Linked DNA regions of Homo sapiens. The protein of the gene in region 1 purifies or fractionates together with the protein of each later gene. This does not show direct contact. Each region holds a gene or a part of one and is shown on either strand. Other genes may lie near its edges.

Region 1 (4,441 bases):
TCCCAGTGATTGTGATGATATGGTGTCTCTTGTCACAGATCACTGTTCTAGTTACTATTTATAAGAATTATCTAAAATACTTACAATACAGATTCTAGGCCCCCACTCCATAGCTGGAGAATCAGAATCTCTATGGGTAGGGCCTTCTACATCCTGTCTTTGGGTTAAACCAAACCTTAGGAATGCTGCTTATTTTGTGTATGTGCATGTGTGTGTTCTTGACTGCTTTCCCTTAGAGGTATTTAGGTGGAAAAGCATCATGAAATTCGTTATTTTACTTAAGAGTGTTCTCCTATGAGAGGGATTTTTCTGAAGTCTCGGTAACAAGAATAGTTGTGTTTCCCCTGAGCAAGTTGTTTTGCTTTTTTTTTTTTTTTTTTTTTTCCACAGAGACTTGCTCTGTCGCCCAGGCTGGAGTGCAGTGGCATGATCTTGGCTTAGTAGCTGGGACTACAGGCGTATGCCACCATGCCCAGCTAATTTTTTGTATTTTTAGTAGAGATGGGGTTTCACCATATTGCCCAGGCTGGTCTCGAACTCCTGAGCTCAGGCAGTCCACCCACCTCAGCCTCCTAAAGTGCTGGGATTACAGGCATGAGCTACCACGCCCGACCATTTTGCTTTTTTATATGGACACTATGAATCATGGACTGATAGTGTGTTACACTTAGCAGCAAGGAAGCTCTGAGCCAATTTGTAGCCTACCTTTGCATCAGGGGTGGCTTAATCAGACTTAAAGACCTATTTGAAATTCTCTGCCTAAGTTGGAGTCAAAACTGCTCAAGGTTCAAATAGTATTACAGACCTGTTTAGTCTTTAACTATTAAAAAGAACTACCATGTTCTCACTCATAAATGGTAGCTAAATAATGTGTACACATGGACGTGGATAATGGAGTGATGGGTAAAGGAGACTTGGAAGGGTGGGGTGGAAGAGTGGGGTGGGAGGGAGTAGATGAGAAATAATGAGTACAATGTATGTTATTTGGGTGACGGATACCCTAAAAACCCTCACTTTGCCACTATGTGGTCTATGCATATAACAAAATTGTGCTTGTACCCCATAAATGTATACAATTATTTTAACCTCCATGTCAGAATCCACCCTTCCTTATTTAGTGAATTGCTCCTTTATTCAGTGATTCTTAACTGAGGGTATGCATACATCTTTGGGGCTGAGTGGAAGAAGGTGGTGGTAGTGAGATGCCCTTTCTAGGGATACAAAATGTGCTAGATTTGTTTGTAACATACATTATTGAAAACAAGTTAAGCCATAACTATAATTCACCAATAAAGGACTTACAGGTGTTCATAACTTGTCTAAGCTCAAATCTCCCATATATAACTTGCTGGCAAATCATTTATTCCAGGGCATTAGCTATGAGTTGCTAGCTTTAAGTTGAACTATATCCTGTCATGGCTTACTTCGAATTGACATGCTGCAGGCTGTATCTTGACATATACAAGATAGCATGTGATGTGGCTTTGTTTTAATTCAGTTAGCCACTGGTTTTTAATGTGTGGGTTATATTTTACTCCCAAAGCAAAATTCTGTGGCATCTCTGGAATACTACCTGAGAATTTTTGTGTGCCATGTCGAAGAAACGCAAATGGGATGATGACTATGTTCGCTACTGGTTCACCTGTACAACGGAAGTAGATGGAACTCAGCGTCCACAGTGTGTGTTGTGTAACTCAGTATTTTCAAATGCTGACCTCAGACCATCAAAACTGTCAGACCATTTTAACAGACAGCATGGTGGTGTAGCTGGGCATGATCTCAATAGCCTGAAGCATATGCCAGCACCATCTGATCAGAGTGAAACCTTGAAAGCATTTGGAGTTGCATCTCATGAGGATACTTTATTACAAGCATCGTATCAATTTGCGTATTTATGTGCCAAGGAGAAGAATCCTCATACAGTAGCTGAAAAGTTAGTGAAACCTTGTGCACTGGAAATAGCACAAATAGTTTTGGGACCAGATGCACAAAAAAAGCTTCAGCAGGTACCCTTATCAGATGATGTGATCCATTCTAGAATTGATGAAATGAGCCAGGATATCTTACAGCAAGTTCTAGAAGATATCAAAGCCAGTCCTCTTAAAGTGGGTATTCAGCTTGCTGAGACAACTGACATGGATGACTGCAGTCAGCTAATGGCATTTGTGCGCTATATAAAAGAAAGAGAGATCGTAGAAGAATTTCTCTTCTGTGAACCATTGCAGCTATCCATGAAAGGAATAGATGTGTTCAATCTCTTCAGAGACTTCTTTCTGAAGCATAAGATAGCACTTGATGTATGTGGCTCTGTTTGTACTGATGGTGCCTCCTCTATGCTAGGAGAAAATTCCGAGTTTGTTGCCTACGTGAAAAAAGAGATACCTCATATCGTAGTTACACATTGTTTATTGAATCCTCATGCACTTGTCATAAAGACATTGCCTACAAAACTGAGGGATGCTCTGTTTACTGTGGTGAGGGTAATAAATTTCATCAAAGGGAGAGCTCCAAATCATCGCCTATTTCAGGCTTTCTTTGAAGAAATTGGCATAGAATATAGTGTCCTCCTTTTCCATACTGAAATGAGGTGGCTTTCCCGAGGCCAAATACTTACTCACATTTTTGAAATGTATGAAGAAATAAATCAGTTTCTTCACCACAAGAGCAGTAATTTAGTTGATGGCTTTGAAAATAAAGAGTTTAAAATTCACCTAGCATACCTTGCAGATTTATTCAAACACTTAAATGAACTCAGTGCATCTATGCAGAGGACTGGGATGAACACAGTATCAGCTAGAGAGAAGTTATCTGCTTTTGTTAGGAAGTTTCCATTTTGGCAAAAACGAATTGAGAAAAGAAATTTTACCAATTTTCCTTTTCTTGAAGAAATAATTGTTTCAGATAATGAAGGCATATTCATTGCAGCTGAAATAACACTGCATCTGCAACAATTGAGCAACTTCTTCCATGGATATTTTTCCATTGGAGATCTTAATGAGGCAAGTAAATGGATATTGGATCCATTTCTTTTTAATATCGATTTTGTTGATGATAGTTATTTAATGAAAAATGATCTTGCTGAATTACGAGCTAGTGGCCAAATCCTAATGGAATTTGAGACAATGAAGCTTGAGGATTTCTGGTGTGCCCAATTCACAGCATTTCCAAACCTGGCAAAGACAGCTCTAGAAATCCTTATGCCATTTGCAACTACATACCTTTGTGAGTTGGGATTTTCATCACTTTTACATTTCAAAACAAAGTCCAGAAGCTGCTTTAATCTGAGTGATGATATCCGTGTGGCTATTTCAAAAAAAGTTCCTCGTTTCTCGGACATCATTGAACAAAAGCTACAGCTACAGCAGAAGTCACTGTAAGCTGATATACTTTTTTAATGAATAATTTCAATCTTAATATCATTGTAAAATTAAGCTGTAATTCTGTCTCTTTCATATTTATGATATACTGAATTCTATGTCTAAAAAACTTAAGAACTTTAATTTTGAATGAGGCATGTGAAAATATGTTTTGAGAATAAAAACACAGCAGAAAAGATTAAGTACTACTGCCTAGTTGCTATCATGAGATTTTCCCAATTCTAAGTATCTGTTTAACCTGTTCGTGTGGTATATGAAAAAGATACCTAAGCACTAGAATATCCAGCTAAATGGTGCAATAGGCTAGGAATTGAGCCAGGAGAAAAGAGAAGATATCCCAGAAGTCAAAAAGGCAAAATGAAAGATTGAGTTCGCCCGTCTTTGTTATGGAGAGGTTAATGAAATCAGAAGAGGATTATGAAATATAATGGGAAAAGGAATGATCTGGCTTATGTAAGACTTACTTTTAAATATACTCTTTGGAGTTAGTCTCACAATGTCCATTCCCCTAGCTCCTGTGCTATGAATATCATATTAATAAATAGCCTAATATATTAATCACTGTTTGTCATCTTTAAATTACTTCAGAACTCCAAGTTATCAAGGCTGCTGAAAAGGAGATTCCTGAGCCTTACCCTAGAGATTGTGATTAGTAGGCCTGTGATAAGGTCAAGGATCCTCATTCATAACCAGCTTTCCAGACTGTTCTGATGGATTCTTGGATTCTTGGGTCCTCTGGGTTCAATTTTTCCTATACTTATTTTTCCTTTACCCTAATTTTGTCACTTATATTACATCTTATATGTATTTTTCTAAGTTCAAAATGTCAGAGTATAAATCATAAATAAATTGACATGAAATCAATGGAGTAATTCAAGACCATCAAAAAATTCCCCATGGGAATCTAACTTAGCACACTTTTTCTGGATGATAATTTGGCAAAATATTTTTTAATTTAAATAAATTTTCATTTCTATTTTTAAACATTAATATTTTATCAAAGTACTACATGCTCAAGGCTGGGAAAAAATGATATAGAGAGTCCTATAAGGAAAAGCCACAAT
Region 2 (7,034 bases), on another chromosome or scaffold:
AGTGCAATACAGAATTTGCACCAATGTAGGGACCAGCCCCACATGATCGGTGGGTTTTTCTCCCTGTGTGCAGAGACGAGAGATTGTAGAAATAAAGACACAAGACAAAGAGATAAAAGAAAAGACAGCTGGGCCTGCGGGACCACTACTACCAAGACGCGGAGACCGGTAGTGGCCCCAGATGCCAGGCTGCGCTGATATTTATTGGATACAAGACAAAGGGGCAGGGTAAGGAGTGTTGAGTCATCTCCAATGATAGGTAAGGTCACATGGGTCACGTGTCCACTGGACAGGGGGCCCTTCCCTGCCTGGCAGCAGAGGCAGAGAGAGAGAGGGAGAGAGAGAGAGACAGCTTACGCCATTATTTCTGCATATCAGAGACTTTTAGTACTTTCACTAATTTTGCTACTGTTAACTAAAAGGCAGAGCCAGGTGTACAGGATGGAACATGAAAGCAGACTAGGAGCGTGGCCACTGAAGCACAGCATCACAGGGAGATGGTTAGGCCTCCAGATAACTGCGGGCGGGCCTGACTCATGTCAGGCCCTCCACAAGAGGTGGAGGAGTAGAGTCTTCTCTAAACTCTCCTGGGGAAAGGGAGACTCTCTTTCCCAGTCTGCTAAGTAGCGAGTGTTTTTCCTTGACACTGACGCTACCGCTAGACCATGGTCCGCTTGGCAATGGGCATCTTCCCAGATGCTGGCATTACCGCTAGACCAAGGAGCCCTCTGGTGGCCCTGTCCAGGCATAACAGAAGGCTCGCACTCTTGTCTTCTGGTCACTTCTCACTGTGTCCCTTCCGCTCCTATCTCTATATGGCCTGGTTTTTCCTAGGTTATGATTATAGAGCAAAGATTATAATAGTATTGGAATAAAGAGTAATTGCTACAAACTAATGATTAATGATATTCATATATAATCATATCTATGATCTATATCTAGCATTAACTCTTGTTGTTTTATATATTTTATTATACTGGAACAGCTCGTGCCCTCGGTCTCTTGCCTCGGCACCTAGGTGGCTTGCTGCCCACATCCCAAAGTATAAAATAACCACGTGTCCATACTGATGTATATAAATGGTTGAATAGGTGGGTGAGAATAGACACACCCCATGCAAAAGAATTCCATGTAATTGACGTAGATACCCCTCCCTCAAGGAGGCAGTTGATTATCCCAGCTCTTACGTGTGGGCTGCACCCAGTGACCCCCTTCCCAGTGGTACACTTTGGAAACCGGGTTGAGAAAGAGGAACTTGACCCTGGAGAAACCTGACCTCAGCCAGGGGAGGAAGGTCAGGGGTGAGTTCTCCTGAGAGTGGGATGTGGGGAGGATGGCCCTTTTCCTTTGTAGCCTTTCTCCCAAGAACCCATCAGCTCAGTCTAACCATGAAAAAAAACAGCAGACAGCCCCAACCTGAGGGACATTTTACAAAATATCTGACCCATGTTCCTCAGATCTGTCAAGGGCATTAAAAACAAGGCAAGTTGGCCGGGCTTGGTGGCTCAGTGCGTGTAATCCCAGCACTTTGAGAGGGTGAGGCAGGCGATCACCTGAGGTCAGGAGTTAGAAACCAGCCTGGCTAACATGACGAAACCCCATCTCTACTAAAAATGCAAAAATTAGCCAGGCGTGGTGGCACACACCTGTAATCCCAGCTACTCGGGAGGCTGAGGCAGGAGAATCGCTTGAACCTGGGAGGCGGAGGTTGCAGTTTTCCGAGACCACAACGCTGCACTCCAGCCTGGGCGCCAGAGTGAAACTCCGTCTCAAAGAGACAAGGCAAGTAGGAGAAATAATTGCAGTCTAGAAGATCTTAAGGAGACGTGAGGACTAAAAGCCATGTTGTCCTGGATGGGGTCGTGGAACAGAAACAGGATGTTAAGTACACACCAGGGAAATCCGAATAAAGTGTGGACTTCAGTTAATAATGATGTAAGGAACATTGGCTCCTGATTTATGGCAGATGTACCCCAGGAAGGTAACATGTTAACAGTAAGGGAAATAACTTTTCTATATATCTGTATCTATACCTGTAACTATTCTAAAATTAGAAGCTTTTTTTTTTTAAAAAAAAAAGGGAAAACAGTAAACAATAGCTCATCACTCTTATTTTTAAAAGGTTGGAATAACATTAGAGATGTTCTATAGGATCAATTTGAGATTTCTGGAGTTTACTTTCTGACCCAGTTTTCTCAAAAATATGAAATTCTTGTTGCATAAGTCTGACTTGTCACTGGGGGATCATTCCAGATAAAGAATTTTCTGGTGAGGCCTCGGGACCACATCTGAATGAAAGTGAGGAGGCGAGTGTCTGAACAGCCAGCATTTCGTGTCTGTTTCCCCTCTGCATAACATAAAAATTAACGTATGATAGCACAACATATGTAAAGTCACCTTGGTAGAGGCACTAGGCGGAAGGGAGTGGGCATCTCTTGGCTGGCAATGAGCTGGGTGCCCAGCCATCATGGTGCAGGGCAGTTGCCCTTCTCAAGCAACTGATCCAGAGACATTTGAGCAGGGGACTGTGACCACACTACAGTACACACCACGACCGTGTGACAGTCACAGATACAGACACTGAGTTTAATGGCTTGGGGGTGGAGAAGTTGCCAGTTGCCCACCCTCTGATAAAGATGTTAGTGAAAATATTATAGATTTATTGAGGTTTGTCAAAAAATTGCTGCATCTCAGATATAAATGGGCAAAATAAAATGAATTAAGGTTAGGGTTTTTTTGTAGATAACCAAGAATAAAATGTAGTGATTTTGTTTTATTATGCCAGCTGTAATAAAGTCTTAAGGAGAATGCAGGCTGTAAAAGCTTAAAGAGAATAGGGGAACAATTTTTTTAAATATTTAATGAAATGTCAAACATTTTACCACATTTTGAAGAAATAAAACATTGTAGATATAGCTAAAGCCTCACTTTCTTACTTCTTCACCCCTTCCTCCTGAGAGGTAACCCATTGTCTTGACAGTGATGTGTATCATTGCAGGTATTCGTGAATAACTTTTCTATGTATATAACATATGTATGTGTATATACATACATATGGATGTATTAAGTAATACATTCTGTTGGTTTTGGTGTTTTAACAATTTATTTAAATTAAAAGCTTAACAGATCTGTTTATTTTTCTTTTCACTGATCATTATTGGCATTGGTTTCTGGTGCTAAGTGTAGATCTCATGGGGGTTTTTTGGTTGTTGTTTTTTTTTCCACTTTGTAACATTCCACTATATGAAAATAAACCAATTTGTTTTCATATGCTTGTGGAAGAACAGTCACTGTGGGTTGTATCCTTTTTTGGTGTTCATGGCTAGGATGATTCTTGTATGTGTTTCCTTGTGAACACCAGAATTGTGGGACTACAGGTGTGTGCCACTTCAGCCTTAATAGATATTGCCAAATTGCTCTTCAGAGTGCCATACATAAAATTTGTACATTTCCATTTTTCCACATCTGTGAAAAATCTTACCAGATTTATCAGATTCCACATTTTATCAGACTCACTTATCTTTGCCAGTCTGAGGGGTGTGATACATTTCCCTGATTGTTAGTGAGATTGAACATCTTTTCATATAGTTGAATTTATTAGAAGTCCTATCAAGAATTGCCTATTTAGGCCGGGTATGGTAGCTCATGCCTGTAATCCTAGCACTTAGGGAGTATGAGGTAGGAGGATCACTTGAGTCCAGGAGGCCAAGGCTGCAGTGAGCCATGATTCCACCACTGCACTCAAGCCTGGGCAACAGAGCAAGACCCTGTCTCAAAAAAAAAAGAACTAACTGCCTGTTTATTGCCTGTTAAGTGGGCTGGTATTTCTTAGAGACCTTTGGCCTTGGACCTGATTCCTCAGAGTGTATGATAAAAGAATACAGCTGCATGCTATCACAAAGTTAAATTGGAGGTGGGTGAGAAAAAGAGTTTAGTCTTTGACCGTATTTAATTGTTTTATTTACTCCTATGCCGTTTGATTTTCTTTGTGCCTCGTTATTGCTGACTGTGTCTCTTATTGGTGTAGGAAAGAGTTCAGGTAAGTAAGTTATCTGGTTTGTTAGGTTTGTAATTAAGTATTTAACAAAAATGTCTTTGGAAAAGTGCATTTGCAGTTTCCTAAAAAGATGACAGTTTTACAATACGACCCAGCAATTATGCTCCTGAGTGTTTGCCCAAATGATGACAACTTTTATCCTTATAAAAACTTGGGCTTTCCTTATAAAAACCTGCGCTTGCTGGGAAGCTGAGGCAAGAGGATTGCTTGAGCCCGGGAGTTTGAGACTGTAGTGAGCTATGGTCATGCCACTGTACTCCAGCCTGGGCAACAGAGTAAGGCCCAGACTCAAAAGCAAAACAAAACAACTTTGCACATGAATGTTCCTATCACCAATTATTCATAATTGCAAAAAACTGGAAGCAACCAAGATATTGTTCAGCAGGTGAGTGAACAAACAAACTATGATACATCCACACAATGTAATATTACTCAGCAATAAGAATGATCAAGCCCTGAAAGACATGTAAAAACCATACATGCATATCGCTATGATTCCAATTATGTGATCTTCTGGGAAAGGCAAAACTATGGAGTCAACAAAAAGATCAGTGGTTGCCCGGGATTCAGGGGCAGGAAGGAAGGATGAAAAGGTGGAGTACAGGGCATTTTTAGGGCAGTGAAACTATTCATATGACGCTGGAATGGTGGATTCATGGCATTATACCTTTGTCAAAACAGAATTGGCTGGGCATGGTGGCTCACACCTGTAATCTCAGCACTTTGGGAGGCAGGTGGATCACTTGAGGCCAGGAGTTCAAGACCAGCCTGGACAACATAGTGAAACCCCATCTCTACCAAAAATATGAAAATTAGGCAGGCGTGGAAGTGCATGCCTGTAATCCCAGCTACTCAGGAGGCTGAGGCATGAGAATCGCTTGAACCCAGGAGGCAGAGGTTGCAGTGAGCCAAGATCACGACAGAGCAAGACTGCACTCCAGCCTGGGAGACAGAGCAAGACTCTATCTCAAACAACAACAACAACAACAACAACAAAAAACCCCACAGAATTGTACAACACAAATAGTGGACCCTAATGTAAACTATGGACTTTTGTTAATAAAAATTTATCAATATAGATTCATCATTTATAACAAATACAGCACACTGATGTTAATAATGGGAGGAATTGGGTGCAGGGGAGGAGGGGTTATAGGAGGACTCAGTTCTATCTGACCAGTTTTTTCTGTAAACCTAAAGGCATCTAAAAAATAAAGTCTATTAATTTTTCTAAAAATCTTTCATTGTTAAATTCAGATTTTACCAAGTGTACTCAAGTATGTGGAACAATTATGTTTTCTAATAGAAACTTTTTAAGATTATTTGTTTTATTTATGAAATCTAAATTGCTGAAGCTTTTTCAAGACGACTGCTTCCATTTTTTGTGGATCTATAAAGAATGCACAGTTCATGTTGAAAATCATTTCGTTCCTTTTTGCTTTCTCAAGTAGTAGAGTGGTACAAAGTATTAATTGTGTAAGTTTTTCTTTGTATGATTAAATAATTTAGAGCAAATATTTTGCATATTACTACATCAAAAATCTTTCCAAATATTGTAATAACTAAAGTAATCTGGAATGTTTGTCTTGATTCTTACTAATTCTTTATAATATAAAAGACCTTCTTTCATTGATTCTAGGACTTCCATTCTAGGACCTCTCTGAAATCAGTGTACCTCTTAGAATCAGTAACATCTTAGATTCAGTGAAATACGATATGTCTAATAAGGGTTCGGAGGAAGGGCTATAATAATTGTTACAGAATCATGATAATTTTTCACTGATGTTATGGGACCGTTCTGATTTTCCCTTGCCTGCCTGTCTTCCAGATGCTCTCTGTGTGGGTATGTGTGTAGCCATCCTCCTTCTTTGAAGTCTCATATGTGGAAACATGCAAGTGACCAAAATTACAACTACGAACAAGTAAACAAGGCTATTAACGACGCGATTTCACAAAGTGGCAGGTATTTCATCCTACCCCCTCCCTTTATTGCTATATGTAAATTAAAGCCAGGATTAAATCTACTAGTCCTACATTGTAGCCTCCTCACGGTGTGCTGTGTTTGTTTTGTTTTTAAGAGTTCTGGGGAAATCCCCTGGAAAGACTCAATTAAAGAGCAGTGAAGAGAGTGCAGATCCCGTCACTGGAAGTTCAGAAAATGCAGTGTCATCTTCAGAACTGATGTCCCAGACTCCCAGTGAAGTTCTGGGTACCAACGAGAATGAGAAACTGAGCCCTACAAGTAATACCTCATATAGTTTAGAAAAAATCTCCAGTCTGGCCCCTCCTAGCATGGAGTACTGCGTTTTACTCTTCTGCTGTTGTATTTGTGGTTTTGAATCAACCAGCAAAGAAAACCTCTTGGATCATATGAAAGAGCACGAGGGTGAAATTGTAAACATCATCCTGAATAAGGACCACAATACAGCTCTAAACACAAATTAGGTGGAATAATGACTCGAGCAGGAAAGCAGTAGAAGAGGATTCCTTCACCACAGTTTCACCTTTACGCTGTCAGACAACTTCCTGCCACAGAAGAAGTCGTTGATGTGATTTTTGAGGAAATGACAGATGTGACTTTGGAACCAAACTTGTAATAAAAGGAATTCCAAATGGACAAGCAGTAATGATATTTAAATATTTTGAGTGAGGGGGAGTGGGTCAAAGAGGAAGTAGAGGTGTAATCCTGTATTAACCCTCTGTCACCCCTTCTTAGTGTCGAGTGTATTTATTAATAAAAGCTTATTAGAGTGTAGAAATGCCAGCAAGAGTTAAGAAAGGGCTTTTCAGGAACTATTCTAAAAGTCATAAAAGGGTCACAGTCTTAAGCAGAGCTTAGTTTTCTTCTCACTTGTCAAATGCAGACTGTGAGGCCTCCAGTGAGAAATGGGAGGCAGTTCTGGGAGGGGGTTTTTTCAGTGTCACCAACAGAGTCAACAAGGAAACATAATTAGAGGGCTTTGAAATGATCTACTGA
Region 3 (7,034 bases), on another chromosome or scaffold:
TGAGAGAAGTCATTTTCTGTTTTTTACCTAACATAAAGCTTTTCTCCCTAGGTGGATGATGACTTTACAGCCCAAGATTACAGGCTCCAGTTTCGTAAATGTACTTCAAATCATTTTGAGGATGTATATGTAGGTTCTGAAACTGAATTCATAGTATTGCACATAGACCCCAACGTTGATTACCAGTTCAGAGTCTGCGCCCGAGGAGATGGCCGACAGGAGTGGAGTCCTTGGAGTGTCCCCCAGATAGGTCATTCCACATTGGTGCCTCATGGTATGCTGCTAACCTTTTCTCTCCTGAAGCCTAACTATATATTAGAATACCTGTATTCTGTGCTAAGGGCAGCACACTGACAACCAGCTATTCTAAGCATAGATCCTGAATTGATAAGAACAACATGCACCATGTCTTTTACTCAGATTACCTCATGTGATTTTTGTTTTCATCAGTTCTTCAGAGTCCAAAAAAAATGCTGGACAAGATTTTTAGCCTCATTGAAAACCAAAGATTGAAAATATTATGTAGGGCACTGATATTCCTTTTTATTCTTTTTTTTATATTTGAATGTTATTTAGTTAGTTTTTTTGAGACAAGGTCTCACTCTGTCGCCCAGGCTGGTGTGTGGTGGTGCAATCATGCAGCCTGACCTCTAGATCCTTCTGCCTCAGTCTCCCAAGTAGCTGGGACCACCTGCATGCACACCACACCTGGCTAATTTTTTATTTTTTTCTAGAGACTGGGTCTTGCTATGTTGCCCAGGCTGGTCTCAAATTCCTGGGCTCAAGCAATCCTCTTGCCTCGGCCTCCCAAAGTGCTGGGATTACAGGCGTGAGCCACCGCGCCTGGCCTATTAATTAGATTTTTATCAGGTTGGAATAAGTTCAAGCAATTATGCTTGTACAATGATTTTATTAGATAAGAGATAACACTTGTGTGATTTATTATGTCAAAATTATGCAGGAATATACTAAAATCTTTTGTAATTTGTGGGACTGATCATGATACCCTGTTAATGGAATCTTTTATTTTATTGAACTTGACCATGGCCCCTAAGAGTAGTCTCCCATTTCCATGTTTTATTTAACGTGTCTGTATTGAAGATATCCCTCAAGAGATTCTAACAGTTTTCAATATCTTTGCTTTGAAAAAGAGTGGACAGCTGGTTTTGAGGGGTACAGTCTGAGCAGTCGAAGAAATATAGCACTTCGGAACGATTCTGAATCATCGGGTGTTCTCTACTCCAGAGCTCCGACTTATTTCTGTGGGCAGACATTAACATTCAGGCAAGTAGATATTAAAACATCTCACCTGCCTCAGGAAGCAGAGTGAAGTGCATAGAGCATACATAAGCTTTGAATTCAAAACATCCTGAGTTTATTCCGTCATTTATAGGCAGTGTTACTGTGGGAAGGCTTCTTTATTTCCTGTAGCTGTAGTTTTCTCATCTGTATTCACAGGGTTATTACGTAGATTAACTGGGAAATGTATATAAAATGCTTGTTATTTAATATGTTTATATCTCTTTTCCTCTTGGTAAGTAGAGGTAAGTAGAGTATCTCTCAAAAGTCAATCTTAGGCTGGGCATAGTGGTTCACACCTGTAACCCCAGCACTTTGGTAGGCCGAGGCAGGTGGATCACCTGAGGTCGGGAGTTCGAGACCAACCTGAGCAACATGGAGAAACCCCATCTCTACTAAAAATACAAAATCAGCCGGGCATGGTGGCACATATGCCTGCAATCCCAGCTACTTGGGAGGCTGAGGCAGGAGAATTGCTTGAACCCAAGAGGCAGAGGTTGCAGTGAGCTGAGATCATGCCATTGCACTCCAGCCTGGGCAACAAGAGCGAAACTGTGTCTCAAACACACACACAAAATTAAAAAGTAAATCTTAAAAATTTAGAGGCCTGGCCAGGCACGGTGGCTCACACTTGTAATCCCAGCACTTTGGGAGGCTGAGGCGGGCGGATCACGAGGTCAGGAGATTGAGAACATCCTGGCTAACATGGTGAAACCCCATCTCTACTATAAATAAAAAAATTAGCCGGACATGGTGGTGGGTGTCTGTGGTCCCAGCTACTCGGGAGGCTGAGGCAGGAGAATGGCGTGAACCCGGGAGGCGGAGCTTGCAGTGAGCCGAGATCACGCCACTGCACTCCAGCCTGGGCGACACAGCAAGACTCCGTTTCAAAAAAAAAAAAAATTTTAGAGGCCAAGAGACTGGACGCAGTGGCTCACACTTGTAATCCCAGCACTTTGGGAGGCCGAGGCGGTTGGATCACTTGTGGTCAGGAGTTCGAGACCAGCCTGGTCAACCTGGTAAAACCCCATCTTTACTAAAAATACAAATATTAGGACAGGCGCAATGGCTCCCGCCTGTAATCCCAGCACTTCGGGAGGCTGAGGTGGGTGGATCACAAGGTTAGGAGATCAAGACACCACCCTGGCCAACATGGTGAAACCCCATCTTTACTAAAAATACAAAAATTAGCTGGATGTGGTAGTGCACACCTGTAATCCCAGCAACTAGGGAGAGTGAGGCAGGAGAATCACTTGAACCCGGGAGGCAAATGTTGCAGTGAGCCATTGCACTTCAGCCTGGCAACAGGGCAAGACCCGTCTCAAAAAGAAAAAAAAAATTAGCAGGGTGTGGTGGCACACACCTATAATCCCAGCCACTCAGGAGGCTGAGGCATGAGAATTGCTTGAGCCTGGGAGGCAGAGGTTACAGTGAGCTGAGATCGCGCCACTGTACTCCAGCCTGGGTGACTGAGCGAGACTCCGTCTCAAAAAAAAGAAAAAAAGCATAGGCCGGGCACTGTGGCTCATGCATATTATCCCAGCACTTTGGGAGGCCGAGGTGGGCAGATCACGAGGTCAGGAGATCGAGACCATCCTGGCCAACATAGTGAAACCTCGTCTCTACTAAAAATACTAAAAATTAGCTGGGTGTGGTGAGGTGCGCCTGTAGTCCCAGCTACTCGGGAGGCTGAAGCAGGAGAATCACTGGAAGCCTGGAGGCGGAGGTTGCAGTGAGCAGAGATCGTGCCACTGCACTCCAGCCTGGGAGACAGTGCAAGATTCCGTCTGGAAAAAAAAAAAAAAAAAAAAAAAAAAAGCAAAAAAATTTACTGGCCAAGAATTTGTTTTGTCCTTTGTGAATCATTAACAGCAAGTCTTTGTAAGAGACAACACTGTAAACATATTATGTATATGCTACTCTCTAAAGTAAAACTGAAAGCAAGCCTCCCCTACCACTAATTAATGTTGTTTCTCTACCCATTTCTTTCTGTAATGGAAAAGTTTCTTTTTTCTTGTTTTCATGTTATCTGAGATGTATTCTTTATAGTCATGTTTCTGAATAGCTCTTCGTAGAAACTAAAGACCAGTTTTGACTTAGAGAAGTAAAGTTTGCCTGATTTTCACCATACTCACCTTAGTGTAACAAGCTCTCCTCTAAGTTTTAAGTCTTGAGATGGGATTTTATTGTGAATGCTTGACCCAAGTTCCTTTTGTTCTCAGGCCCTTATTATTTAAGGCATGGAGAATATCTGAATATTTTATCTAAGCCAGTGTTGCTGTATTCCTCTCCAGCTAAGTAATTTGAATTGTCAGCGGTTGTCAGATTATACTAGTTTGTTTTGTCTAATTTTTGACACCTCACCCCTTAATGAAGAATGACTCAGTAAACAGAAAAATACCAACAAAGAGAGAGAGAGGAAAAAAAAAAACAACTAATACCTAAAATCTATTTAACTATTCCCCAGGTAATCATGAGTTTTCTGTACTTACATACCCCTTCTCTGCTTATGTCCCTTGTTTACAGAAGCACTTCGGTTAGTGACTCTCCTGAGAACAAGGTATTTCTGTGCAATGACAGAGCTTCCTAACTTGATAAATTCAGGCCAGATATCTCAGACTGCAATAATGATGATAATAATAATAATTGCAGTTAATATTTAAACAGTATTTACTATGTGCCATGTACTGTCTTAAGTATTTTACTTGTATTAACTCATTTGATTTTCATGGTAACCCAGTGAGATAGATGGGTTATTTATTTTAGGGATGAGGAAACTGAGGCATAGAGAAGTTATTTACCCAGTGTCACACAGCTAGTAAATGCCAAAACTAGGGTTTAAATCCAGGCAGTTCGACTCCAGACTGGTCTGTATTGCTTCTTTTTCATGGGAGAGTTAACATGATTCTAGTTAGTGTTGAAGTCTACAGTTTCTCTATTACTGTGTCCTTAGCTCTTTAACTTTTACCTCTTATGACCTTTCACCACTTGATCTGATGCTCTCCTGCTTTTTAAATTCTTCCTCCTTGGACACATGGTAATGTCTGATAGATTGCATAGTTAGGTTTATTTCTTAGACCATTCAGTAAATATTTATTAAGACATTGGAAATTATACAAATTGATTTAAATTCACCTCTGCTGACCGTGATGTGAAAGACACATTAGGTCTCAATAAACTGTTGAGTCTCTCTTGCATCTCCTAAAGATGCATCACCAGGCCCCACTTGGCAGGGTGATTAACTGAAATTCAGTTAAACTCAATATAATGGTAGCCAGCCTTTTGCATTTTTGTCATTTTTTTCTTTGTGGAATGAAATGTTTTCTCCCCTTGTTTAAAGGAATTTCAGGCATCAGCAGTGAAGCCAGAGATGTGAATGCAAGGGGGACTCCATGCATAAGGGCATAAGGGAGGAGCAAGTGCGCCTACTTGAATCAAGAGAAACAATATTTAGTTTTTTGAGGGTACTTAAGGGCCTAGTAGTTAGAAGGGAGACTATACTCTTGAAGGCACTACGTTAGCCGGGCACGGTGGCTCACGCCTGTAATCCCAGCACTTTGGGAGGCTGAGGTGGGCAGATCACGAGGTCAGGAGTTCGAGACCAGCCTGGCCAATATGGTGAAACCCCATCTCTACTATAAATACAAAAATTAGCCGGGCGTGGTGGTGTGTGCCTGTAATCCCAGCTACTCAGGAGGCTGAGGCAGGAGAATCGCTTGAACCCAGGAGGCGGAGGTTGCAGTGAGCCGAGATCACGCCACTGTACTCTAGCCGGGGCAACAGAGTGAGATGCTGTCTCAAAAAAAAAAAAAAAAAAAAAAAAAAGAAGGCACTACTTTGTTATTTATCCCAGTCAGTCCCTGCTGAAGCTTCTGGAAGGCTTGGAGCTGCTGAAGCCAGAGAAACCTGTGATACTGGCTGGATTTTAACAGTCTCTAGACCCACTCTCATTAGATGCCCAGGTCTGCTAGCAACCCCCTCCTTCCAGGTCTCCCTCACTTCCTATGTGAACATTCCTGCTCTTTCCTTGCTTCTAAGATTTTCTGATTTTTTTTAAGGTTTCCTTCTTTCTTTTCTTTTCTTTTCTTTTTTTTTTTTTGAGACAAAGTCTCATTCTGTTGCCCAGGCTGGAATGCAATGGCACAATCGGCTCACTGCAACCTCCACCTCTCAGGTTCAAGCGACCCTCTCACCTCAGCCTCCTGAGTAGCTGGGACTACAGGCGCCTGCTACCACGCCCGGCTAATTTATTGTATTTTTAGTAGAGACGGGGTTTCACCGTGTTAGCCAGGATGGTCTCAATCTCCTGACTTTGTGATCCGCCCACCTCGGCCTCCCAAAGTGCTGGGATTACAGGCGTGAGCCACTGCACCCGGCCTATTTTCTTTCTCATTCCCCTCCCCAGCTCTCCCCCTCTTTTTGTTTAAGACAAGGTCTCGCTCTGTCGCCCAGGTTGAAGTGCAGTGGCATGATCTCAGCTCACTGCAATCGCCATCTCACAGGTTCAAGTGACCCTCTCACCTCAGCCTCCTGAGTAGCTAGGATTACAGGAGCCACTACCACACCCAGCTAATTTTTGTATTTTTTGTAGATACGGGGTTTCACCATGTTGCCTAGGGTGGTCTTGGAACTCCTGACCTCAGGTGATCCACCCTCCTTGGCCTCCCAAAGTGCTGGGATTACAGGTGTGAGCCACTATGCCCGGCCCCTCCTCCCCATACTTCTTTAGACTGCTCAGATATGAAATAACTTCAGAAACCTACCCAAATATTATGATCCTGCATGTTTGCTATTTCACAATCAATGACATTTTGAGGCCACATTGACTATAAATAATCACATCTGTCTTTGGAAAAGCCACATTTTGTTTCACACTAATTTTTTTTTTTGTCCTTGCAAAGTTGGCTTTCTGGATGGAGAGAATGATGTGTCTGGCAATAGGGATCTGTACATTTCCTATTTCAAGAGCACACAAAGTACTGACATCTGAAATGAAAACACAAAAGGAAAAGCTTAAACTTGCCACATAGGAAGTTCTTCATGCTTGAATAGTGTCTTCATAACCATAATGGGATTTTTTAGGATTATAATAGTTCTTTTTAAATGCTTTATTTACTTAACAAATAGTAATCAAATCATTGCAAATTCTTATATGGAAGATTTAGGCGCTGGCAGCAATAGTTACATAAATTATAATGTCAACTATGACAAACCTTCTATGTGTCTAGAGCTAGAATATAAAATAGAAGTGTGCCATCATGGCTACAAATGGTTAAGAATATAGATTCTAGGCCGGGCACGGTGGCTCACTCCGTAATCCCAGCACTTTGGGAGGCCAAGGAGGGTGGATCACCTGAGGTCAGGAGTTCCAAGACCAGCCTGAGCAACATGGTGAAACCGTGTCTCTACTACAAATACAAAATTAGGCCAGGTGTGGTGGCTCACGCCTCTAATCCCAGCACTTTGGGAAGCCGAGGCAGGCGGATCACCTGAGGTCAGGAGTTCGAGACCAGCCTGACCAACATGGTGAAACCCCGTCTCTACTAAAAATACAAAACTAGCCGGGCATGGTGGTGCATCCCTGTAATCCCAGCTACTCAGGAGGCTGAGGCAGGAGAATCGCTTGAACCAGGGAGGCAGAGGTTGCAGTGAGCTGAGATCGCGCCATTGCACTCCAGCCTGGGCAACAAGGATGAAACTCCATTTCAAAAAAATAGATAGATAGATTGATTGAT
Region 4 (7,034 bases), on another chromosome or scaffold:
ACAGTCTGGCCACAGCGTGTTTCTCTGTGGCCCCGTGCGGGGCGACCTTGCTACCCAGGCCCACAGTAGGCTGTATGCGAAGAGCCTGCGCCTCTGCCTCCAAGAAGGCCTCCAGGTCTGCATCCTGCATGAGATGGACATGAGAGCTGATCCCCAGGGCCTTCATGGGGAAGGAAGGAGGGGGCTTGAGGAGCTCAGGCCTGCTCTGACTGTGCCTTTTTTCCCCCTCAGGTTTCTGCAAATGCGTGAATGAGCCGGATGCCAGCCTCTGTCCCCTGGAGCCCAGCGTGAGGAAGAGGCATGCCCCATCAGCCTTCAGCTTGAGCCCGGCGGCCCCCGCCCCCGCCCCCTGCCACCCTGCACTGCCCCGGCTCCCCCGCGGCCCCCACGCTGCAGTGCGGCCGGGCCCCCTCCCCGCAGGGGCCGCCCCCGCCGCCCACCCCTAGCGCCCGTGGTGGTGGTGGTGGTGGTGGTGGTGGTGGCCCGGGCCGCAGGGCCATGAAACTACAGGCCGTGATGGAGACGCTGTTGCAGCGGCAGCAGCGGGCGCGCCAGGAGCTGGAGGCCCGGCAGCAGCTGCCCCCCGATCCCCCTGCTGCACCCCCCGGCCGGGCCCGGGCTGCCCCCGACGAGGACAGAGAGCCCGAGAGTGCCCGGATGCAGCGGGCTCAGATGGCCGCACTGGCAGCCATGCGGGCTGCAGCTGCGGGCCTGGGACACCCAGCCAGCCCCGGCGGCTCTGAGGATGGGCCCCCAGGCTCGGAGGAGGAGGACGCGGCCCGGGAGGGGACACCGGGCTCACCCGGGCGAGGCAGAGAAGGGCCAGGAGAGGAGCACTTTGAGGACATGGCCTCCGACGAGGACATGTGAGTTGGGGTCTGGGGCAGGGCCTTCTGGGGGCTGTTACTGGCTCTGAGTGTCACTCTGCTCATCTGCAGAATGGGAGTAAGGGTCAGGTCGCGGGATCTCCTTCCTGTAATTCCAGCAGTTTGAGAGGCCGACGTGGGAGGATCACGTGGGCCCAGGGGTTGGAGACCAGCCTGGGCAACATAGCAAGACCCCATCTCCGCAAAAAATTAAAAAATTAGCCAGGCATGGTGGTGCACCTGTGGTCCCAGCTACTGGGGAGGCTGAGGCAGGAGGATCCCTTGAGAACAGAAGTTGAGTTGTGATTGTGCCACTGCACTCCAGCCTGGATGACAGAGATAGACCCAGTCTCAAAAGAAAAATGGTTTTTTTAGCCGGGTGCTGTGGCTTACGCCCGTAATCCCAGCACTTTGGGAGGTCGAGGTGGGTGGATCACCTGAGGTCAGGAGCTCAAGACCAGCCCGGCCAACATGGCGAAACCCCATCTCTACTAAAAATACAAAAATTAGCCAGGCGTGGTGGCAGAAGCCTGTAAACCCAGCTACTCGGGAGGCTGAGGCAGGAGAATGGCTTGAACCTGGGAGGTGAAGATTGCAGTGAGCCAAGAATGTGGGTTTTTTTTTTTTTTTTAGACAGAGTCTTGCTCTTTTCGCCCAGGCTGGAGTGCAGTGGCGTGATCTCAGCTCACTGCAACCTCCTCCTCCCGGGTTCACACCATTCTCCTGCCTCAGCCTCCCGAGTAGTTGGGACTACAGGCGCCCGCCACCACGCCTGGCTAACTTTTTGTATTTTTAGTAGAGACGGGGTTTCACCATGTTAGCCAAGATGGTCTCGATCTCCTGACCTCATGATCTGCCTGCCTTGGCCTCCCAAAGTGCTGGGATTACAGGCGTGAGCCACCACACCCGGCCAACTTTGTTTCATCTTAGTTAACTTAAAGCAACCTAGCCACCGATGGCTACAGCAGATTCAGCGGCAGGGGCAGATAAAATCTGCAGCCGGCTGGACCTGCATAGCGTGTGGGTCCCCCCAGGGCTGGCTGAGGGCTCACTTGCTGTGGGATCCTGGCCTCCAGGAACCCGCATCTTCCTGGGAGGACCTGAGCAAGCAAAGATGCTGGGCGCAGTGGCTCACGCCTGTAATCCCAGCACTTTGGGAGGCCGAGGTGGGAGGATTGCTTGAGCCCAGGAGTTCAAGACCAGCCTGGGCAACCTAGTGAGGCCCCATTTCTACAAAAAGTACAAAAATTAGTCGGGTGTTGTGGCATGCATCTGTGGTCCCAGCTACTCGAGAGGCCGAGGCGGAAGGACTGCTTGAGCTCAGGAGGTCAAGACTGCACTGAGCTGTGATCACACCACTGCACTCCAGCCTGGGCAACAGAGAAGACCCTGTCTCAAAAAACAAAACTGGCCGGGTGCAGTGGCTCATGCCTGTAATCCCAGCTACTCAGGAGGCTGAGGAGGAGAATCGCTTGAACCTGGGAGGCAGAGGTTGCAGTGAGCCGAGATCGTGCCTTTGCACTCCAGCCTGGGCAACAAAGTGAGACTGTGTCTCAAAAAAAAAAAAAAAACAACCAAACAAAACCTAGCAGCAAAGAAGCAGGTGATATCAGGTTGTACAAACAGCTGCCAATGGCTGGGCGTGGTGGCTCACGCCTGTAATCCCAGCACTTTGGGAGGCCGAGGTGGGCGGATCACGAGGTCAGGAGATCGAGACCATCCTGGCTCACACGGTGAAACCCCGTCTCCACTAAAAATACAAAAAAATTAGCCAGGCGTGGTGGCGGGCGCCTGTAGTCCCAGCTACTTGGGAGGCTGAGGCAGGAGAATGGCATGAACCCGGGAGGCGGAGCTTGCAGTGAGCCGAGATTGCGCCGTTGCACTCCAGCCTGGACGACAGAGCGAGACTCCCTCTCAAAAAAAAGACAAAAAAAAAAAAACGGCTGCCAAGAAAGTCTAGGAGGGTGCCGTGGAGGGGCAGTGGCGAGGGTGGGGCGGATTTCAGATGGCGGTGGGAGAATTCTCCCTGTGGAGGGAAGGGGAGGTGGAGCTGGGACAGCATGCATGGTGCAGGATGCAGGAACCAGCCTGCCGTAATGATTCCCTTTTTTTTTTTCCCAAGAGAGTCTTGCTCTGTGGCCCAGGCTGGAGTGCAGTGGTGCCATCATAGCTCACTACAGCCTCCATCTCCTGGGCTCAAGGGATCCTCCCGCCTTGGCCTCCCAGAGTGCTGCCGGGATTATAGGTGTGCGCCACCGTGGCTGCCTGCGTGATGCTTTTCAAGGCCCCAAAATTCACGCTGTAGGGACGGCTTGTGCTGTTCTGGGCTAATTGGAAACAAAGTGGGCGTCACGGGTGCCCCACGCTGTGCTCATGAGCGCTCTCTGCAGTCTGAGCTGGCGGCGGCCGGCTCTTCCTATTTCCAGAGAGGGAAACTGAGGCTGGGCGGGGAGTGGGTCTTTCCTTGGGCTGGGACGAGCCAGCACCTTCTCCCCTGACTCCTGCCCTCTGCTCACCCCAGGAAGCCCAAATGGGAGGAGGAGGAGATGGAGGAAGACCTCGGGGAGGATGAGGAGGAGGAGGAGGAGGATTACGAGGATGAGGAGGAGGAGGAGGACGAGGAGGGGCTGGGCCCCCCAGGCCCTGCCAGCTTGGGCACCACGGCACTGTTCCCCCGAAAGGCCCAGCCACCCCAGGCCTTCCGCGGCGATGGCGTTCCCAGGGTGCTGGGGGGCCAGGAGCGGCCGGGGCCTGGCCCTGCCCACCCCGGAGGGGCCGCCCACGTAGCCCCGCAGCTGCAGCCGCCTGACCACGGCGACTGGACTTACGAGGAGCAGTTTAAGCAGGTGAGTGGGCGCGTCCCGCGTGGCGGCTGAGGCACCTGCTCCTGGGCCAGTGGGGCCCTTTGAAGGCCCACGTTGCACGGGGTGTGTGCTGAGCCGGGCGTCGAGTTGAGAGCTGGGGGTTCCTGCGGTAGCTGTGCTTCCTGTGCTTCCCTCCTGGGCGTGGGCTCGACCAGCTGGCTGTTCATTGCTCTGATGTGGGATGTGTGAGGAGCACCCGGCCGGGTAGGAGAAACCTGGGGGGCTCCACGGCCCCCATATCGGAGGTGATGGGGCAGAGATGGAAAGGTGGGCCTGGGAGGGAGAGGCTGGCGCCGGCCCGAGCTGGGCTTGGGTTGGAGGAACCAGGCCTGCGGGCGATGCGGGCAGAGAGGCCGGGGCCTTGGTGACGTGGTGACTTGGCCTCCTCTGTCCCCTGGCATCTGTGGAGAGCCGTGGGGGGTTGCGGGCTGCAGCTGGCAGCCGAGGGGATGTGGGGGTGGCTCAGGTGTGGCTGCAGGAGACGCAGGAGCCAGGGCCTGTGAGGCTCCGAGTGGGCGGTTAAGGCTGGGGCCGGCAGGGGGTCTCAGGGACCCCAGGCTGAAGGAGGAAGTAGGGGCCGCCCCAGCCTTTCCCCGCAGGCGGCCAGGCCAGAGGAAGTGGCCGGGCGGGGGATGCTTTGAAGTTGGGCCGTGCTGGGCCGGGCAGATGGAAACCAGATGGTGGCCAGGCTCACATTCCAGCCCTCGTCCAGCTGGGCTCTGCCTCGACCTCTGGGCGCGGCTGGGGGGAGCCACCTCCTCGCCCGGGGCTGGAGCTGGTCTGGGCTCCCGCAGGGAGGTGGATGATGGACACGCTGGGACATGCCTGCCTCGGGGCAGCCCCTTCGGCCCTGGGCTTCCAGAATCCGCTCTGAGGAGCCTCCTAGGAGGGGCCAAGGCACAGACACCCAGGGGGGCCTCCCCGGGGCTCCTGACTCCAGGGGTGCCGGGTAGCTTAAGGGGCGGCCCTAACCCCAGCAGCCCTCAAGAGACTTAAGGTTGGGCTGCCTGGAAACTCACAAATAGTAAAGAGCTGAAAGCCGGACACGGTGTGGGAGAATGGCCAGGGCAGCGGCGGGGACTCGGTGGGGGGGGGGGGCGTCTCGCTGATTCCACCCTGCTCTGTGACTCAGTTTCCCACTCCTGCAGAAGGGGATGCTCCACGGGCCACACTGCCGCGCGTCCCATTCTGCCAGTGAGAAAACAGAGGCTCAGTGTTGGGAGGAGGGGTCTTGTGATCTTTTCTGGGTTTAAGATGATACGGATGAGCATGCTGAGAGTGGATTCTCTTTAATTTCATTAATTTAATTCACCAATTAATTTAACATTCACCCAATATTCGCCATCTGCCCGGGACTCAGCCCGCAGGGAGCCCTGGGCTGGAGGGGCGGGCAGGAGCCGGACGGAGACCTCCATCCCCGCAGGGTTATAGCCAAGCCGAGAGGGAGGGTCAAGGCCCCCCATTCAGTCGGTCCTTCGGGGGTCAGAGGTGAATGGGACCCCCTGACCCTGGACACACGCCCCGCCCAGACAGCCCCGGCCTCCAAGGCCCAAAGCCGATGGGGGAGTTTTGGGGTGACTGGCCCAGACCAGGCAGGGATGAGGGGCCAGGCGCCCTGACCCCACAGCCCGCAGCATGTCCTGAGCGAAGGCAGGAGGCAGAAGCCACTGTCTACCTTGTCTGGGCGACACCGCGGGTCAGGGTTGTAGGTGCCATGTGGGGTTTTTCTGCAGCGGGAAGCCGAGATGGGGAAACTGAGGCCAGTGCAGGGAGGGGGGTCACTGTGTCACCGGCAGCCTCAGGTATTCCTGGAGATCCTGCCGCCCCGCACCTGCCCCCTGGGTGTACCGGGCAGTGCAGAGGCCCTGAGGTGGACTAAAGCTCGGCTTGTGTGTAGGGACCGGGTGCCGCCTCTGGGTCTTGCGGGAGACGGGATTGGAACTCCGAGAAGATGAGGGCCTAGGGATGGTCGTGGGCAGCGGGGGTGGGGGGAGGCCCCCGCCCTGCAGTCCTGTGACTTTTTTTTCTCTAGAGAAGGGCTTTCACGGTGTTGCCCAGGTTGGTCTCAAACTCCTGGGCTCAAGTGATCTGCCTCACTCAGCTTCCCAAAGTGCTGGGATTACAGGCCTGAGCCACGGTGCCCAGCCAGTCCTGGGATCTTATCCTGGGCTGTTCGTGGCAGGTCCAGCCGCCGATGCCGCCGCCCGCCCAGCTGGCCAGACACCTGTGTTCCCAGTGTCAACAGTGGCCTGGGCCCAACCAGCCCAGTCAGTGTTACCTCCCGCCCGGCCCCTACTGGGGCCCCTGTTGACTCTGGCGCCTGCCCCACCCCCTTCCTGGCACGTGGCAGGCCTGGCCCGCTGGCCGGCCGCTTGGCACCGTCTCTGCCTCTTCCTCCCAGGTCCTGGCAGGGCTCGGGGCTAACTTCCGCCTGCAAATCCTCGACAGCTGTGAAATTCTGCTGTCGGCTGCAGGTCTGGTGGGTGGCCAGGCCGCGGCGGGGGGCCGGGCGCAGCAGGCTCAGGGCCACGGGTTCTTTCCTTGGACACCTGGAACCTTGCTGCCTGGGGCCTGGGGACGTGCAGTTTTGGAGGCCAGCACGTGTCGGGCAGTGATTAGGATCTCAGCCTCCTGATGTCTGACGTAGCCTCCTGGTGGCCTCCTGTCACCCACACAGCAGGCCCAGCTTCTAGAAAGCGGCCACGGTAGGATTTTATTGGATTATTATTATTTTTGAGGCAGGGTCTTACTCTGTCGGGTAGGCTGGAGTGTAGTGGTGCTGTCCTAACTCACTGCAGCCTCGATCTCCTGGGTTCAAGCGATCCTTCTGCCTCAGCCTCCTGAGTAGCTGCGAGTACAGACGGGCGCCACCAAACTCAGCTAATTTTTGTAGAGACGGGGTCTTGCTATGTTGCCCAGGCTGGTCTAGAACTCCTGGGCTCAGGTGATCTGCCCTCCTTGGCCTCCCAAAGTGCTGGGATTACAGGCGTGAGCCACCGCACCCCACCATGGTAGGATTTTATTTATATATTTGTTTATTTATTTTTTGAGACGGAGTCTCGCTCTGTCGCCCAGGCTGGAGTACAGTGGCGCGATCGCGGCTCACTGCAAGCTCTACCTCCCGGGTTCACGCCATTCTCCTGCCTCAGCCTCCCGAGTAGCTGGGACTACAGGCATCCGCCACCGCGCCCGGCTAATTTTTTGTATTTTTAGTAGAGACAAGGTTTCACCGTGTTAGCCAGGATGGTCTCGATCTCCTGACCTTGTGATCCGCCTGCCTCGGCCTCCCAAAGCGCTGGGATTA

Evidence for each region.
Region 2: the proteins of FAM200C (region 1) and ZNF507 purify together in Homo sapiens (affinity purification with mass spectrometry; 2 studies listed by BioGRID and IntAct, with this or other methods). This does not show direct contact.
Region 3: the proteins of FAM200C (region 1) and CRLF3 purify together in Homo sapiens (affinity purification with mass spectrometry; 2 studies listed by BioGRID and IntAct, with this or other methods). This does not show direct contact.
Region 4: the proteins of FAM200C (region 1) and ARID3A purify together in Homo sapiens (affinity purification with mass spectrometry; 2 studies listed by BioGRID and IntAct, with this or other methods). This does not show direct contact.

What each region holds. Positions count from the first base shown.
Region 1 is NC_000005.10:160,392,642-160,397,082, reverse strand, and holds the end of FAM200C (protein FAM200C), read left to right. Parts: intron 1-1,543; 5' UTR 1,544-1,592; coding exon 1,593-3,377; 3' UTR 3,378-3,935; downstream 3,936-4,441.
Region 2 is NC_000019.10:32,376,582-32,383,615, forward strand, and holds part of ZNF507 (zinc finger protein 507), read left to right. Parts: intron 1-5,885; coding exon 5,886-6,020; intron 6,021-6,135; coding exon 6,136-6,502; 3' UTR 6,503-7,034. UniProt on the Homo sapiens protein: May be involved in transcriptional regulation.
Region 3 is NC_000017.11:30,786,690-30,793,723, reverse strand, and holds part of CRLF3 (cytokine receptor-like factor 3), read left to right. Parts: intron 1-51; coding exon 52-274; intron 275-893; exon of another isoform or gene 894-1,151; coding exon 1,152-1,284; exon of another isoform or gene 1,285-3,086; intron 3,087-6,062; exon of another isoform or gene 6,063-6,285; intron 6,286-7,034. UniProt on the Homo sapiens protein: May play a role in the negative regulation of cell cycle progression.
Region 4 is NC_000019.10:929,031-936,064, forward strand, and holds part of ARID3A (AT-rich interactive domain-containing protein 3A), read left to right. Parts: exon of another isoform or gene 1-115; intron 116-231; 5' UTR 232-498; coding exon 499-866; intron 867-3,387; coding exon 3,388-3,712; intron 3,713-7,034. UniProt on the Homo sapiens protein: Transcription factor which may be involved in the control of cell cycle progression by the RB1/E2F1 pathway and in B-cell differentiation.